Homo sapiens: one gene and its partners. The protein of the gene in region 1 interacts with the protein of each later gene in a pairwise test. Each region holds a gene or a part of one and is shown on either strand. Other genes may lie near its edges.

The links.
Region 2: the proteins of CUL7 (region 1) and PLXNB3 interact in a two-hybrid assay, tested with the Homo sapiens proteins (one study listed by BioGRID and IntAct).
Region 3: the proteins of CUL7 (region 1) and MEGF10 interact in a two-hybrid assay, tested with the Homo sapiens proteins (one large-scale study listed by IntAct).

What each region holds. Positions count from the first base shown.
Region 1 is NC_000006.12:43,047,352-43,050,851, forward strand, and holds part of CUL7 (cullin-7), read right to left. Parts: intron 3,048-3,500; coding exon 2,909-3,047; intron 2,809-2,908; coding exon 2,612-2,808; coding exon of another isoform or gene 2,585-2,611; intron 2,312-2,584; coding exon 2,056-2,311; intron 1,219-2,055; coding exon 981-1,218; intron 903-980; coding exon 797-902; intron 639-796; exon of another isoform or gene 626-638; coding exon of another isoform or gene 596-625; intron 1-595. UniProt on the Homo sapiens protein: Core component of the 3M and Cul7-RING(FBXW8) complexes, which mediate the ubiquitination and subsequent proteasomal degradation of target proteins. Core component of the 3M complex, a complex required to regulate microtubule dynamics and genome integrity.
Region 2 is NC_000023.11:153,770,749-153,774,248, reverse strand, and holds part of PLXNB3 (plexin-B3 isoform 1 precursor), read right to left. Parts: intron 3,492-3,500; coding exon 3,366-3,491; intron 3,285-3,365; coding exon 3,168-3,284; intron 2,940-3,167; coding exon 2,846-2,939; intron 2,764-2,845; coding exon 2,594-2,763; intron 2,386-2,593; coding exon 2,234-2,385; intron 2,068-2,233; coding exon 1,962-2,067; intron 1,364-1,961; coding exon 1,233-1,363; intron 1,020-1,232; coding exon 843-1,019; intron 732-842; coding exon 536-731; intron 391-535; coding exon 151-390; intron 64-150; coding exon 1-63. UniProt on the Homo sapiens protein: Receptor for SEMA5A that plays a role in axon guidance, invasive growth and cell migration. Stimulates neurite outgrowth and mediates Ca(2+)/Mg(2+)-dependent cell aggregation.
Region 3 is NC_000005.10:127,433,796-127,437,295, reverse strand, and holds part of MEGF10 (multiple epidermal growth factor-like domains protein 10 isoform a precursor), read right to left. Parts: intron 2,610-3,500; coding exon 2,475-2,609; intron 1,936-2,474; coding exon 1,807-1,935; intron 1-1,806. UniProt on the Homo sapiens protein: Membrane receptor involved in phagocytosis by macrophages and astrocytes of apoptotic cells. Receptor for C1q, an eat-me signal, that binds phosphatidylserine expressed on the surface of apoptotic cells. Cooperates with ABCA1 within the process of engulfment.

The sequences.
Region 1 (3,500 bases):
GCTGATTATGTTGGCAAAAACGGCAGAGAGCATCCCTGGGTTCTTTCATCCAGGCCCTACTGTCCCAAAAACCAGTTGTAGGGCTGTGTTTTGAGATGTTCAGGCACAGACACCTGGATGGCTGGGAAGGGGCTGACAGGGACTGGGTTTGTGTGTGTATTATACCCAATGAGCCTGCCTTAGAAAGTAAATTCTAGGTAACAGCCAAAAATATAGCCACACTGCAAATACCTACTGTCACCATGACCCTAGTTCTCTGAGCCCTTCTGAAGCCTTCTGTGCCCAGGACTTCTCTGTAGCTCTTGCAGGGGACTCTGGTATGTGATGGGCGCTCTGCCTCCTTCATCCCCCTTTCTCCCACAGGCCCAGCCAAAAATGGAGCTATTGAAGCTCTTAATGTTTTATGTAATAATATCTCCATATCCTTTTGTGTAAAAAAGAGAGTGGCAAGATCACACATTTGGGTTTGCTTATATTTGCATAAGGGAACACGGGAAAGATACATAAATTAATACAAGTAGTTACCAGTAAGGGGTGTGTGGGGGACCCTGGGGGAACAGAGATTTGGGTGAGAGCAAGAATTCTCAGTGTATACCTTGTTAGAGCGTTTTGATTTGTGAACCATGTGAATGTATTACCTATTTAAAAAAAATAAAATTCAATTTTAAAAGCAAAACTCAAACCAAGAGCTCAAAGGCTCTATCACGCCCTCCAGAGCCTTGCCCAGCAGGTGTGCCTTGCCAGTGGCTGCCTTTATCCTCTCCCCCAGCCTCTCCCCAGAGCAGGGCAGGGGTACCTCTCGATCAGTGTTTGGGGACCGCAGGCAGGCCATGCAGGCATCCACGGCCTCGTGCCAGGGGAGCAGCAGTGCCTCGGGGAAGTCCACCAGCTGCTTCAGGATTCTGGGGGCAGAGAAATGTGTAGCCAGCCTCATGGACCCCCTTTGCCCTCAGAGATCCCACCTGTCACCATGCTCTCACCTCAGCACAGTCAGGTGCAGGGTCCTGTTAGTCTCCGGAGTGTCCAGGCTCTGCATCAGTGCCAGGAAGGGCTGCGGCTGCCGCTGCAGCTGCAGCAGGAGTGGCTTGACCTTGTTCTCCTGGGTCCCCTCTGAGCTGAGGGCTTGCTCTAGATCCAGGAGGATTTTCCCAGCTGGACCATAACCCTCCACCAGACGCTGCAGGGGAGTGTTGGGACTCTGAGATGGGGGTTCTTTTGCTACAGGAAGGGGACAGTCACAGGAGTTGGCCATTGTTAGTAATGTGAAGGCTCAGAAATAGATTCATAACTCTCAATCTTTTTCTCTAATTTCTCCTAAAAAATGTTTTAAATTTTTTAATCCCCCTAAAAGTTAGGTTTGGGGATCTAATCTCTGAATGTCATTGTAAGACAGCTTCATGACAAATTTTATATTCTTTTTTTTTTTTTTTCTTTGAGACGGAGTCTCGCTCTGTCACCCAGGCTGGAGTGCAGTGGCATGATCTCGGCTCACTGCAACCTCCGCCTCCTGGGTTCACGCCATTCTCCTGCCTCAGCCTCCAGTAGCTGGGACTACAGGTGCCCACCACCACGCCCGGCTAATTTTTTTTTTTTTGTAGTTTTAGTAGAGACGGGGTTTCACCATGTTAGGCAGGATGATCTCGATCTCCTGACCTCATGATCCACCTGCCTTGGCCTTCCAAAGTGCTGGGATTACAGGCGTGAGCCACCATGCCCGGCCTTTATATTCTTAAAATAGCAAAGTAGCTTCATCTGAAAACAGGAGAGCACTTCCCTTTATTTCAAAGCATGGAATATGTTTCTGTACAAGAGAAAAAGCTAAATGTGGGGGCTTTTTTAAGTCTTCAAAATTCTCTTGCAATTTTCTAACTTTACATCCTCCTTCATTCTTTGAGGGAACACAATGCCTGCTTCTCCGTTTGTTGCTTCTCTCTAAGTTGCAGCTTCTAAGGTGGCATCACTTCCAGAAAGGATTGCATAAAAATCAGCACAGACATCTCTCCTGTGCTACTGCCCTGAAGGTGTGTCAGCTCAGCTGCTGTGTCTGGCACCCACCTTCCACTTTGGCTGCATCTTCTGAGTCCTTAGCCTGGGCCTGCGCGTCTAGCAGGAGGACATCTTCTTGGGCTTCTAGAAGGGATGGGTAGGCTTGGTTCCCTGCTAGGGCTTCAGGCCCATACTTCTTGTAGACATGGCAGTTGATCAGGTCCCTGAGGGCACTGTCATTGAGTCGCTGTGGCAGAGTCAGCAGCAAGTCCTGGGCCAATTCTATGGGCACGGCCAGTTCAGCTAGGATCTCATCATCCAGAATCTGCCATCAAGGAGAAGCTCTCACTGCAGACAGCCCTGCCGACCCAGAGGCCCCAGGGAGCACTTGGTAGGGGTGGGGGTCTCTCTGCACACATACCCTCCATCCTGATCCTCTCACAGCTGGCAGCTGGCTCCTCCCAAACAGCTCACCCTCCCACCTCTGAAAATTCCAGACCCCTCCTCTGCAGCCCCTTCCACTCTCTGACCTCCACTTTTCATCCTGAGCCTTCCAAATGCTCTATACAGTCCAGCCCTTGCAATAGAGCCCTCCAACCTCTGAGTGTCTCCAGGCTGGCTCTACCTCCCCATCTAGGTTCTCCTGGAGGATCTGGAGAACCTCCTGATGGTCAGGTCCATCCAGCTTCTTGATGAAGAAGAGGAGTTCCCACCACTCAGCCAGGGTCAGGTGTTCACACTCCTCAGTGTCCTCATCCTCAGGCAGCACATAAGGCACAGCATAGAGTTCTGTCATGGGCCTCCAGCGCCAGGCAGGCAGGGCTGTGAAAATGGGCCAAGGGGCACAAGGATGTCACTAGCAACTCAGCAGGACCACCATTCCTCTGCTCAGAGCTGACCCTTGCTTCCTCCCTGAGCTCACCTCTACCCAGGACTCTACTGGCCACTGCCCCTTGGTACTCATCAGCCTCAACCATGTCCTCAATGTCTTCCTCAAAGCCCAAGATCTCCAGCATGTGCCAGTGCACCCAATAGGTGCGGCCTGTTGACTCCCAAAATACCTGGAGCATAGGGAAAGAAAGAGGGAAGGGGAAGGGAGGACTCACAAATGACTGGCTGTGGCCCAGTACTGAGGACTATAGCCCTCAGGGTGACCACCTGGCCAGGTTTTAGAAAAACCTCCACATAACAAAACAGCAGCATATGGAGAATACACACACACACACACACACACACACACACACACACACACACACACACACACACACAGGATGCCTTCTCCTTTGGGGGATGGGCCTGTCTCTCCTCTCACCCTGTCTTTCATGGCTTATGCCCCCACACTTCCTTCTGGCCTCCACCACTCCATCTCCCTGACCCTGACCTTTGGAGGAGTCTGGCTATATCAGTTTCTTCCCAGGTGTGAGTCTTCTTGACTTCACAGCCTCCTAAACCCAGATTTTCCCAGCTCTCAGAATGGCCCCCCTCTCAACTACTGACTCTTTTCACCATTCCAA
Region 2 (3,500 bases), on another chromosome or scaffold:
CTCGCCGCGGCCGATGTGCACGCGCACCTCCTCCTTGCTGATGCCCAGGTTGAGGCCCTCGCCCTGGGACACACATGGGAGCCTAAGCCGCTGGCCCCCACAGAGGCGGCCTGAGCACCGTGGCGGGGCAGGGTTGAAGGTGGCCCTCACCTCCACATCCAGGACATGGCCTGGCTTGAGGCGGTAGGGGCGGGCAGGCCCCTCGCGGCTGAGGGGTGCCAGGCGGGGGTTGGGCTGGTACAGGAAGCCCTGGCCCCCACTGGCACTGGCGAAGTCCACTTGCACGTTGTCTAGGGTGAAGAAGACCCGCTGCGGGTGGGCTCTGTCTGGTACAGCAGGGCTCCGGCACAGGAGGAGGCTGGACGAGTTGACGGAGCAGACGGTGGAGCACTGTGGGGCATTCAGGGCCGACCACAGGTGGAGTGAGCTGGGCTCTGCTGTGCGCTGCTAGGGGCATGGCGGCCTACCCTCCTCCTCCCCACTGGGCATGGGCATGGTCGGGGACAGCCTTGTCGCCTGCTGGTGAGGGGCTCACCTGCAGCAGCCCCCCACCGAGCTGGATACAAGCCTGGGGGTCCGCAGCAGGGGCTCCACAGCTCCTCCTTGGCTGTGGGTCCTGGGGCTGGGCCCTGGAAGCCTGCACCTCTGCGTCAGCCTCCAGCCACACAGACAGTAGGGGCCGCTGCACCACGTCTAGGCCGGTGCCCCTGACACGGATCAGTCGCCCACCCCTGTACCAGGATGGCAGTCGGGTGTGGGCGGGCGGTGGGCAACATAGCCCAGCCCGCATCCCACCTTCCCTCCTGCGTGGTGCACAGGCTGGCCTGCGGGCTGACCCTCACCCCCGGAAGCTGGCACTGGGCTCCGCCGCTACAAGCTGGGGGTTGGCGGTGTAGCGGAAGGGGCTGGCGAGCAGTGTGCGCTGGGCATGGCCAAAGACCACAAGGACCGCTGCTTCTCCTGGGGCAGCCTGGGGCCTGGTACGGCACACGATGGCCTCCGGACACACTGGCTCCAGGCTGCAGGATGGGTAGTGGGGTCTCTCATCTCGGCTCTACCACCCCTCTACCCCAGCCCTGGCCCAACCCCCGTAGGAGAAGCCCTGCTTTGCCTGCCTTGACAAGGGCAGGGACCACTGGGGGTGGCCACAGCAACCACTTCTCTAAATGTACCACCCCCACTGAGGCCTATGGGAGTGCCCACCACCCGACGGCAGCCAGGCCGGGACTCACATGGGACAGGGTTGGCCACCCACGAAGGCACTGGTGTTGCCACCTGTCTGGAGGTGCTGACCTCGGATGGTGAGCTGGGTGCCCCCTGCCTGGGGGCCCCAGCGAGGACTCAGGCTCAGCAGGACAGGGTCCTGGCGAACAGCGCAGGCTGGGTAGGCACGGCAGCCCAGCCTGGCCCTTTCACCCCCCTGGGCCATGCCCAAGGCCCTCCGGTTCTGAAGCGCAGGTCATCTCTGGACTTCACCTCCTGGGGCCAAAGTGGACCACGCCCTCCTTCCCGAGGCCACTGCACACTGGCCAGCTTCCTCCCACCCACCCCTGCCGCATGGGGAGTAGAAGTGGGGCTCTTTCATCCTCACTGCCACTCTGTCCCCCTTGGGACAGCCTCCTCCCCACCACAGCTTACAGCCCCCAGACCTGGAGCTCTAAACTCTCAAATCCAGTTGCCTCTTTGGGCAGAACCCACCCCTGCCCTCACTGCTCCTGTCCCAGGCTTCCCACCCAGGAAACGGTGCCACCAAGTGCCCAGGGCAACAGATCCTGAGAGCTTCGTGCCTCAGACTGGCCTGGCTGCCCACCTCCACTCACATGCCATGGCTTCCCTCCTAGACATGCAGCGGTGCTTCCTGCTCCCCGCAGACCCAGCTTGACATCCTTACTAGGCGCCTGTCCTTCCTGGCCCTCCCTCCTACCCTCCCCTGCGTAGGGCACACCTGGGAGGCCACTGACCTGGTAGGTGAAGTGCTGGCTTGAGATGCCTGGTGGCTGGCTCTTAATGGCCACCCGGACGGGCCCAGTGGTGCCATTGGGGGCAGGAGATGTCACACACACAATCCTGGAAAGCCGAGGCCTGGGAGCTGCTCAGGGCTCAGGGACGGAGGGGACAGCCCACCCCTCCCCTGACCCGAGTGCCCCAGGTTTCTTGGCCACAGGCCTTCCTTATCTCTGGGTGGCCATCTCTGAGGGCCTCCCCACCCATCTTCACCCTCCAAGTGCCTCACCGGGCCGACGTGCGGTAGAGAGAGGGCTCAGGGTTGCAGGGCCGGCTGGCCACGCTCACGGCGTACTGCACATCGGCGAAGGCCCGGCCCAGGTTGGAGCCCAGGATGGTGAGGGCCAAGCCTCCCTCAGGGGGACCGGTCAGGGGCTCGACCTGCAGCAGGCAAATGATGGCAGATGGGGTCCCCCGCACCCACGCTCCACTCTGCAGTGCTGGGTGCCCGGCCAGCCAACCAGCCCAGCCAGGCCGAGCTGCTGGGGTTTGGGGGCCTGGGGCAGGGCTGGTCTGATCACGGAGGACAGGACAGTGCGGGGCAGGAGAAGTGGGCCACTGGGCTGTGGGGGCCCGGCAGGAGACTCACTGCATCAATGCTGGGCGCAGGACACAGCAGCTCCACAGCCCCCGGCGGGCACAAGGGCCCATAGCGACAGGCAGGCTGGCCGTCAGCACACCACAGGCAGCCCAGGCTCCTGTTGGCCGCTTGGCAGTGGCTGCAGTCCGGGTGGCCCATGGCGCAGTCGTACAGGATCACTAGGGAGGGTCAGGCAGTGTGCTGAGCGCCTCCTGTCTGCCACCCACCCTGCCCCGCCTGCCTGGCTGCCCTCAGGCTCACCATAAAGAGCATGGGTGTTGTCCAGCCTCTGGGCTTCACCCTGGGTGACGTAGATGGGCACTGGGAGCTCCCGCTGGGACATGGAGGGATAAAACTGTGGGCAGAGTGTGGGGTCAGGCTGGGTGCCCACTCAGGGCACCTCTGACTCTTGTCTCCTCTGGGCCACCCCCCAGAATGAATGTGATTGTTCCCTGCCTCTCCCCCAAGACTGGGGCCCACAGACAGAGGTTATGGGCCCCAAGCAGGCTCTCCACAAAGATGGCAGACCCCTGAGGGTCTACGGAAGCTTGGGGGCAAGAGGGTTTGGAAGGCAGCCACTCACCTGGTGGGCCTGGCAGTGGATGAGGCCTGAATCCCCTGCTGTCTCCTCCAGGGTGGCCGGCAGTCCCCGAAGTTCTCCAGGCAGCTCCAGCCAGCAGTGGAAGGAGGCAGGCAGGCCCTGGGGAAGGACGCTGTCAGGAGTGTGGACACGCTGTTGGCAGACCTCACTGCCCTGTCCCCTTCCCTCCTGATGGCTCACTCGGAAATGTTGAAGGTTCCGCACGCGTAGGGCCAAATGGCTCTCCCAGCCCACAGGCACCAGGTGGGGACCTGCCAGGCCTTCGACCTGTGGGCAAGCCCCTGGGCCACGCACCTGGATGTCCACCTGGGAAAA
Region 3 (3,500 bases), on another chromosome or scaffold:
AATAGTGACTCGTACAAGGTCACATAGATTAATAATAATATTTGTTATTTGTTAGACAAATACAGCTTTCCCAAAGCCACAGTGAGACTCAGTGAAAACTGTTGAAGCGTCTAGCCCATTTGATGCTCAGTGAAGCACTCTTTACCTAAAACAACCTATTCCTTAGATGATATTTAACCAGCTTCTGTAAACCCATTTATGTTCACAATATATTTTTCTGAGGTAACCCACTGCCATTAGGTTTTTCTCCCTATATTTGTTATGATCAGAGAATGGGAATAAGCATCACTCAACTTTATATTCCCAAAAGGTAAACGTAGAGATAGTGCTTTAAAAAATCATTTTCCCAAGGACACCTGCCCCTTTAAATGTACCCCTTTAAGTTTTCAAAGTCTGTGTTTTCACTGTGAAGGACTTTGCTCTCTTTAGACAGGCTCACAATCAGCTAAGAAGAAATATGAAGATGGTTCCACAGAGTCCATAAGGGAATCAATGAAATCAATGATCCCCAGGAGAAGCAAAGGCTTTTGCCAAATAAGTCAGCTTCCTGTGGAGTGATTATTGGGACAGGCAACACTATAGTCTCCATTCATAGTTGTGTTTCTATTTTTATTCCTTTCAGCACATTCCTCCTCCAAATGAGGAAGGGACAAATTTCCAAAATAAAGACTACTTTTTAAAGGAGCAATATAAATCAATCATTTTGTGACAATGATATTGGACCTTTTACTCTTCCCAAACCCATACGCCCAACCATCAGTCAGAGCCCTTGCAACACATGTAGATTTAAACAGACTGATTTCTTCTGAAGTGATGCCCCCAGAATGGAGTGAAATCATATCGCATAACACTTCTTTCACCAAAGAGCTACACTTCTGAGATTTATTAGCTCTCTTCCCTTATTCCTAAAAAATGGGGTACAGCCTGGACTACTTATGGAAAAAATTAACATTCAGAAAAAAATCTTCCAGCAAAAAATATATTGCTCATCAATTAGTATTTGCAGGTTGCTTGTAACTGTGAAGTTTGAATTAAATTATCAATAAAGCACCATGTAAAATGACTGCACACAGTCATTCTTTGATTTCTCTTATGTGCATGATGGGGGAATTCAATATAAACTGAGAGTGTTTCATAAAATTTAAAATGAATGAAACCAGATTACTCCATACATATGCTATTTTTTGGTCAAAAGTTGAATACTTTTAGACATTGCACTGACCCTTTCAAAACATTCATGAATGACTTATAGTCGATGTCATTTTTTTCATGACATGGGTGCTCTAAGAGTCATCTATATAGTCCCTTATAGGGTCACACAATTCCTGTCTGAAATCCAGTGGTGTGGAAGGCACTTGGGTGATGCCAAGGTGAAGCTAAGCATATTAGGTGGGCAGTTCGCTCAGGTTCCCAATAGGTTTCTAAGGCTCACATCATTTAATTCCATTTTTTCTTTCTCTGTAATTAACTCTCCAGATAAACACAAAATGAAGAGATAGATTTCTCAATACAGCTGTTTTTGCTTTATTTCAATGGACGATGAATCACTGAAAAGGGGATAAGGAAAATGTTACATATTTAGGTTCTTTCCAAGACATTATTTGGATTTAAACATAGGACCATTGCATAGAGGTCGTAATGGGAAAAAAAAAAAGAATTTTAAAAAAAGAATTTAAAGTAGAATGTGTCTTTTAATTAGTCATATATTCTTTCTTGATTATATAAAAACACTCATACTTCAATCCTAAAGAATCTGAAAACAAACAAATAAGAACAGTTTATTAATTGTTCTCAAACAAGACTTACGTTGAGAGCAGTCACTGCCAATCCAACCGGGGTAACACTGACAAGATCTGTCAATGGGGTTACAGGTTCCGTTGTTGGTGCAGGTACAAATTCCTGCACAGTTTTTCCCAAATCTGCCACTGGGACACACTGTGAATAAGCTATAGGTCAGTAACTCACAATCAAAACCCCTCTCGCAGAACCCTAGAATCTTAGCACAGGAAATAACTTTAAAGGTCACAGGCCCAGCTGCTCATTGGTAGCTATCTCTGCTCAACAGCATCCTTCATCTTGAATGGGCTCATTTTTACAAATCCATGAAGCCAAAGATTTGCATTAAGGCATCACAAACCAGGGGACATCATTGCACTTCTAGAAATATGACTTCACGACTTCTTGCTCTGGGAGTCTAAAATTCTTCCGCATATTGATTTTTTATGGGAGGACATGTCCAGCTAAAACTGAAGAGTAGCACATCTCAGGAAATAAAAAGGTTTTGCTGGAGTGGCAAGCCAGCTTTTCCAAAGCTCAAAGTCCTATCTGAGAAGCTGCAGACACAGCACAGCAGAAGACATTCCCAGCAGACAGCTGAAAACATGGCCTTCAGGAAGGCCAAGGGGAGGCCTGAGGACAGACTCTCCGGGGCGTGCTCATCACCACCCAGCTGTCCGGGATGCTTCGTGCCTTACCTTCATTGCAGAGGGCGCCTGTGAAGCCAGGCAAGCAGTCACACAGGCCGGTGATGTGGTGGCAGGGCCCGCTGCTGTGAACGCACTGTGGGCATGTCTGGCTGCAGCGATGCCCATAAAAACCAGGGGAGCAGACTGAAAACAGAAGGGAAATCAGCAGTTATCCTTCTGAGATGCGTTTGTCTCGCATTCCAGATCGGGATCTAGTTAAAGTTTTAGAGGTTAAAAAGCAAAACCTTAAAAAAAAGTAAAAAAGATACGGAGAATTTTCCAAGTAGAAAACAAGAACAACAAAGGAACAAAGGAACCCTTTAATGAGGAAAAGAAGCCACTAAACTCTGAGTTTCTTGAGAGCAAGCAAATGTCTTAGTCTTCTTTATTTTCCCATTTAAGGCCCCAGTTAGCTCAAGTCTTGGCATAAAGCAGGGCTCCAGGAATTTTCATTGAATAAATAAAGAGATAAAAAAATTGAAATACTAATAAGTCTCAAATAAGTACTCTCAAACCATTTGTTGATTCTTTATTCTTTAAGAGTCGTTTCTGGCAATAAAAATCGATCAACAGTCAAAATTTGAAGATTTTTCCTCCTCAAAATGGTCCAGGTTAATGACTGTAATCGAAAAGTGATTAACCAAAATGCTATATACTTAAGTTCTTGCCAAGATACTATTCAGATTTAAATATATGATAACTGCATAGAATTCTTATGGGGGGAAAGGCAATTTAAAAAATTAGAATAGTATAACTTATAATTAGTTACATATTCTTTTTTGATTGCATTTACTAAAAGATTACTTAATCTTCTAACTCAGAAGTCTTAAGGACCAATGTCAACAGTCTCCTTTTTCAACTTTGCAATTCCATTTTCCCCATAGCACTGATTTTAAGACTACTAGCAGGATGAATGATTTGCCTCAAGGTTTGGCTGATGTTGACGTCTGGTAATTGAGGTAAGGCCAATGCCAAACTGCTGAATAACATATTTACAGGTCAGTGAATTTCTAGAACACCATTCCAAAGCTTTCA